Regions from separate parts of the Homo sapiens genome. Here region 2 is reported to be linked to region 1. Evidence: microRNA targets listed by miRTarBase, many of them from high-throughput screens and not tested one by one. Region 1 holds a microRNA gene; the other region holds the end of a gene's coding sequence.
What was found. The annotated mature microRNA hsa-miR-100-5p reads AACCCGUAGAUCCGAACUUGUG and lies in region 1 at 2,051-2,072, shown strand. An mRNA with a match to its seed (bases 2 to 7 or 8) in the 3' UTR can be bound and repressed. Matches are read on the target gene's strand: a 7mer-m8 pairs with bases 2 to 8, a 7mer-A1 pairs with bases 2 to 7 and ends in A, and an 8mer does both.

Region 2: the mRNA of MTCL2 is a reported target of hsa-miR-100-5p. The part of its 3' UTR that is shown has no 7-base or 8-base seed match.

Annotation. Positions count from the first base shown.
Region 1 is chr11:122,151,244-122,154,346 of GRCh38, reverse strand. MIR100 (microRNA 100) reads left to right here and starts at 2,039; the gene lies at 2,039-2,118. All of the region lies in intron 4 of MIR100HG (mir-100-let-7a-2-mir-125b-1 cluster host gene), which reads left to right. It overlaps MIR10526 (microRNA 10526), which reads left to right and starts at 2,191; the gene lies at 2,191-2,244.
Region 2 is chr20:36,783,969-36,787,071 of GRCh38, forward strand. It overlaps MTCL2 (microtubule crosslinking factor 2), which reads right to left. Exons shown (of 15, transcript NM_080627.4): 15 at 1-2,669. The coding sequence ends at 2,517. Among named protein-coding and RNA genes, the nearest start is that of DSN1, 12 kb to the left of the region's middle.

The DNA.
Region 1 (3,103 bases):
GTTCTAGTAAGCGTGATGATAACAATTCATTCTCATTACTCTGGGACGTTGGGCTTATTCTGCTCCATTATAATAGGAGCACCTACATCCCCCACATTCCAGCAATATTTAACAGGGTTCAAAGTGGCCATCCTCAAATACCTCTAGCCCCATGCCTTTGTCAGAGAGACGGAAGGAAAAGAAGCAGCTCAGAGCTTATTTAAAAGTCTTTTATTTTAGAAAGGAAATGAACATTTTAAAATAAAATAAATAAAGACCATCTGGGGGTGACTGATTTGGATACTACTTACTTCCACTTGCTATTGTTATTTCTTTGGATCTGAAAATTAAGCCACAGAGCTACAACTAGATTCTCAGTTTTGCCAACCTTCACAGCACCAGCAGGCTCTGAGCAATTGTACCACAGCTCACTTGTGATGAGATGGGGAAACAACAAAGTATCTATGAATGGTTATGTCTCAGTTTCTGTTCATCGTACTGTTGGTTTCCTGTTCTCTTTATTTAACTTTTTAGGTTGCATACACGAGGGCCTGCTCTTTTCTCTGAATAATTCCTCAATTCAGCTCTGTCTTTTTTTGTTCCCCTTGGTAGGGCTTCAGTTCATCTCCCAGATTCTTTTTTTTTTTTTTTTTTTTTTTTTTTGAGACAAAATCTCACTCTGTTGCCTAGGCTGGAGTGCAGTGGCACAATCTCGGCTCATTGCAACCTCTGCCTCCCAGGCTCAAGCAACTCTCATGCCTCAGCCTCCAGAGTAGCTGGGATTACAGGCGCACGCCACCATGCCCAGCTAATTTTTTTGTATTTTTAGTAGAGACAGGGTTTCACCCTGTTGGCCAGGCTGGTCTTGAACTCCTGACCTCAAGTGATCTGCCAGCCTTGGGCTCCCAAAGTGCTGGGATTACACACATGAGCCACCAGTGCCTGGCCCCAGATTCTTGAGAAAGGAGTGAATGTCCATTTTTTGAGGCAAATGAGATAATTATTTTGAGAGCCAGGATCCATAATTATAGCTAACAAAAGTTAAAAAGGTCTCTTTTTAGGTCCTGTAAAGGGATGGAGTCATGTGTGTTTCCCAGCATCTAGGACAGGGAGTTATTTAGCTGTATAATATATGTCCCTGAAGTGCTTATGATTATGCCTGTCTTCAATACAATTCACAAAAGGCGTCGTTAATGAAAGTCCATTGTCTTGGATGTTCCCTTCTTATATGTAGAACATTGGCTTTGCAGAAAAAAAATGTTATGTTGACAAATGCAATCATTTTATAAGAAGGTCTCTGAAACAGATTCATCCCTGTTTTTTCAAACAGTATTGCGGGGGGCGGGGGGTGCGGGGGGAAGGAGGAACAACTATGTAATTTCTTCTATGGTTCAAATTTTACAGAGTACACCCAAACTTGCTCATTGTTGGTGTTTGAATCAATAATAAGTGTGGGGATGGGATGGGGGTGGGAACAAAAATGCAAACTTTTCCCGAAGATGGATCTTAATATACCTGAAAATCTACTCTAGAGTGGTTTTCAAAAAAAAAAAAAATATACCTATAAATCCGTTGGTAGTACTTGCTAAGTTTATTCTAGTTGTTTTCCAGAATGCAAATAGGAAAATGAAAATTTCACCATCATTTTTAATGTAATGACAGGTATTTAAAGGAATGGACTTGCATTTGGGCTCTCATGTGTTCTTTCTCTCTGCCTACAATTTAAAGAATTTTCTTTATTCTGCTGGTTTGCCATTTTGGTATCACTTTGCCCAGATTATGTGTTCAGCAGTGAATAAATGAGTCTTCCATATATAAACAGTAAAATGATGAGGTTTACCTAAAGTCCACTGGATTTGTGGAAAAAGTGGAAACCAAGGGAAGCACGTTGGGGAGAACATAGAAGATATTGCTTAACTTTTGCTTTTGTGAGAGTGGGACGAAGTCCTTTCCATTTATGGCATAAAACAATTGAATGGTAGACTCTTTTATTGGATTAATGGTTGTAATATTTTATTTTCAGACATGTCACAGCCCCAAAAGAGAGAAGATATTGAGGCCTGTTGCCACAAACCCGTAGATCCGAACTTGTGGTATTAGTCCGCACAAGCTTGTATCTATAGGTATGTGTCTGTTAGGCAATCTCACGGACCTGGGGCTTTGCTTATATGCCATTCAATATCCCTTCGAGTTATTTCATTCTCCTTCTCTTCCCCTTAGTTTCCTTTAAGAGTGATAAAAATGGAAAAGGGGGCTGAGGTGGAGGAAGGAGACCTTTTGTCCTGAAATGAATGAGGTTCTTCAATGATGAATTAATAGGCTGGCCCTCAATTCCCATATCTCTTGTAACTGGTCTCTGCTGTCAAATTAGAAGGCTGAGCTTACAGGTGAGGCAGCAAGAATTTGAGTGATTGGAACAACTTACTGTTGAGTGATGAGTAAAGAGATAAACAAGGGTTTGTTTTGTTTTCTGTAAGCCTAATTGTTTTCAAAGTTATTATGATATTTTCTGGAAAGTGGCAGATGTGTTTACAGGACCAATTTCACCGTGATTTGGGTTTTTGGGTTTTCCTTTGTTGCAATTCTTCCTCCCCCAATTTCCCCAATAATTTTGCTTCTGAAGATAAGGACTGATAAATCAGAATGGATGTGTTTAACTGCCTAACTATTTATACTTCTATTTATATCCAGCAGTGTAAGAAGGACTTCTTATAAAAAAGAGATCGCCTGTTTAGGTCCAAATTCATATTTGGCCAGAGCTGTTTTATAAGTCTTTATCCTGTTTAAAACGCTGGAATGAAAATAATTTTATCCTCTTGCCTCTTAAATGTCACCATTGTGCCAGGATTGAAAAGCTAAACTGACCACAGATCAAAGCAAAACTGGCTATATTTGTTTCATTCCAACAATGTGAGCTGAGGAGTCTGTAAACAGAACTAGAACCCAGGGTGAAAAGTTGATCAGATTTGGATGACTCTAAAACTTTTGCATGCCCTTTTGGTAAAACATAGTGCCAGAAGTTCCCTTAAGATGTGTGTGTGTGTGTGTGTGTGTGTGTGTGTGTGTGTGTGTGTCCTCTTCTAACAAAAAAAGTCAACATGAAGTAGTTGGTGGGTTAACATTA
Region 2 (3,103 bases), not on the chromosome of region 1:
GGAAGTAGAAACTGGGGCTTTACTGAAAACCAAGGTCTGGCTGAGACAACAAAGATGGCAAGGACAATCCTGGACGGTACGATGGTAAGGCTGAGTGGTCCGTAGGTCTTGGGGCTCAGGTCCCACGGGGATTTCTCCCCGAGGCTGAGTACGCAGCCTCCCTGGCTGTCGCTCTGGGAGGTGGCAGAAGGCCTCTGGTGGCTTGTGGCCTGATGTGAATCCCCTCACCTGGAGATAACCTTGGAGGGCCCCCCTGACCTCATGGGTGAGAGCAGCAGCATCCAAGAGCGGAACTGGCCCACAGCTCCACTGGCTGCCTGCTCTGCCCACACCAGTCACTGGGGCATGGAGGAGGCGGCTGGCGGGACTGGCATGACCCTGGTGTTCAGCCTGCAGGGAAGGGAGATGCAGGACTTGGGGTAACTGGTCCAGGTGATCCCGAATGGGTGGGTCTGGGAACTGGCAGGTGGGAGGTGGGAGTGCAGGGGCGCCTCCAGAGTCCTGGGGGCAGATCAGCAAAGCTACTGGCTTTTGGTCTTCCTGATGGGCAATTCTGCAGACAAGCTGATCCATCCTGGTGTTTCCACTCTGGGTCCCCAGTCAGTTACAGGAAGGCTGATGTCTATGTGTGTGTGGGGAGCATGTGTGCAACCAAAAGGGGTTCACCGGCACCAAGGCGAGGCCATGGGAGGCGCTGCCCCACATGCTGCAATGAGCCACATCGAAATCCAACCAATGGCTCAGGCAGCTCACAGGGGACGTGAGGAAGGGCGGGCAGCAGAGCTGGGGCAGGGAGAAGAGCCGTGAAAGGCCATAAGGCTAAGGAGAGAGGCTGGTGAAAAGGCTGGCAGGCTGGTGAGAACCGAGGCAGGCTGGGAGACACTCAGGTTTATGTGCAAAGCTGCGATAAACAACATTCTCAAAGTTCAGTCCTGTTTTCCTGTGAGTTCTCATTTGGGAAACTTGGAGGGATCTCCACACTCTTAATAGAGCTTTAGTAATCCACGTTCGACTCATGAAGAAAGGTGTCAGAGGGAGGGAGGGAAATGAGACAGGCAATGGAGAACGTCTGGGGAGTGGTGATGGCCGTCCAGCCCTCCACCTTGTCAGTGAGTATTTATAGACTGACCGCTGGGGCTGGCCAAGTACCAGGCATTGAGTAATAAGTAGTGTTCTGAGGCCACATGGCCAGCCGTGTTGGGGTGCAGGGCTCCAGCTCTGTTGAGGGGCCCTCCAAAGCTGACCAGGAGGCCAGGTCTCCAAACCTGGCTGCCAAGCGGCCTCGTCCACCCAGGGGACCCCATGCCTGCCCGTGCTGTTAGAGGCCTCATGTTGTCCCAGTGGCAAGAATGCATGTTTCAACCTCCAATAAATTACCTTAGGGACTTTGGGGTAAATTAAATTATTAAAATAAAGTAAACCACCTTAAATATTTATAGTAGGAAAAATTCAAATAAACAATCTAGGCAAGATACGTGTTTCCAGGCCCCAGTCTACTGCTGTGTCCTGGGCTCTGGCCTCTTGGTGTTCTCCTGGGCCTGACCTGGCCAACCAAGAATCTCTTACTGGGAATATCTTTGCCCCCCGACCAGCTGCAGGATGTAAACACAGTGGAGATGTAGTGCCTGCTGCCTCTCAGGGTGCCAGGGAAAGAGGCCTCTGAGATCACTTGAGATCAAGGCAGTGTATTTAGGCATTTATCTATGCACCAGGTCTTGAGACTGACTCTACCTATTTCTGTCCTCAAGGGGTCTGCTGGGAACGTTGGGGCCCCAAGTCACTTTGGCAAGGAAGGCAATTGCAATCACTCCCCAACCCTGAGCCCTGCATGTTTCCACTTCGCCTCCCAGCTCTTGCTGCATCCAGGCTATGGGCAGGGAGATCCAGGGCTCCAGGACACTAAGCAATGGCCCTGGCTACTGCCCTATCATACTCCCTAGTGTCCCAGCAATCTAGAGCAGTGGGGCTGGGAGGAGGAGGTGGTGGAGAGAAGGAGGTGATGGTGATGATGCCCAACAGGGCTCCACCAGGAACCAAACATGGAGCCCTAGAGCAAAGCCTGTTCTTCTCAGCAGTGTCTCCTCCCAAATGAAGGGGTGGATGGTCAGCAGGAAACATCTCTCCGACTCCTTTTCCCCAAAGGCATGGCCAGACATGTATCCTTCTTGGGCTCTTCCAAGAGGGTGGCATGGGCAGAACCAGGCAAGGCTCTCTCTTAGGACCCAGGGATCGGCTCTTGACAGATCTCTCAGTGGATGCTTGGGAAGCCCAGGTTTGGTCTCTCTCCCACTCACTGCCTTCCCCTGGGAAGTCGAAGCTCACCACCCAGGGGCCAGCAGGAGACCCGGCTTTACCTTGATGTGAAAGCTGCATTCTGGCAGTGGCATCACTGCTGTCCCTCCAGGGCCAGGCAATGCTGAGGACACAGCCCCTCGCCTCACCTCGTCTCGTCTCTGCTGGTTCCCTTCTGCTATCCAGGGGCTGGGCTGGTTGAGGCGGGGAGCTTGGCTGCTCTGTCACTCGCTGGGGGGGAGTGCCCTCTCCTCCCCACCCCAGCTGGACTCTGAAGGGTGCAGCCTGCACTTGGAAGGAGAGTGGCGGATGGCAGAGCGGGACGATCGGGCGAAGCAGGAGGTGAGAGACTGGGTACTACAGTCACAAACAGCGTCCTAGGAAGAGGGAGGCAGGGAGGCAGGAAGTCAAGAGGAGCCAGGAGACATGGACCACCATGAGCTGTGTGGTATGCCAGGCAAGGAACTGAGACTCGGCCATAAACCAGTTCCCAGGGGCTGAAGCTCCTCACTGGACCAATTTTTTCTTTCTGTTGTTCTTCTCCCATTAGAGCGGTAATGGAAGTTCATTGTAATATATTCTAGGCTATACAGAGAGGACAGTGGACACTGTCCATGGTCCTGCACGCCAAAGAGATTCTTAACATACATTTACCAAAATGACAGCTTATTTTGCAACTGTAAAACACGAACACTTTTCTGTCACTAGGTATGTCTAGATCTCCTTCCTTTTTATCCTTTTTTTTCGTTTGAGACAGGGTCTCACTATGTTGCTCAGGCTGGTCTTGAACTCCTGGGCTCAAGCGATCCTC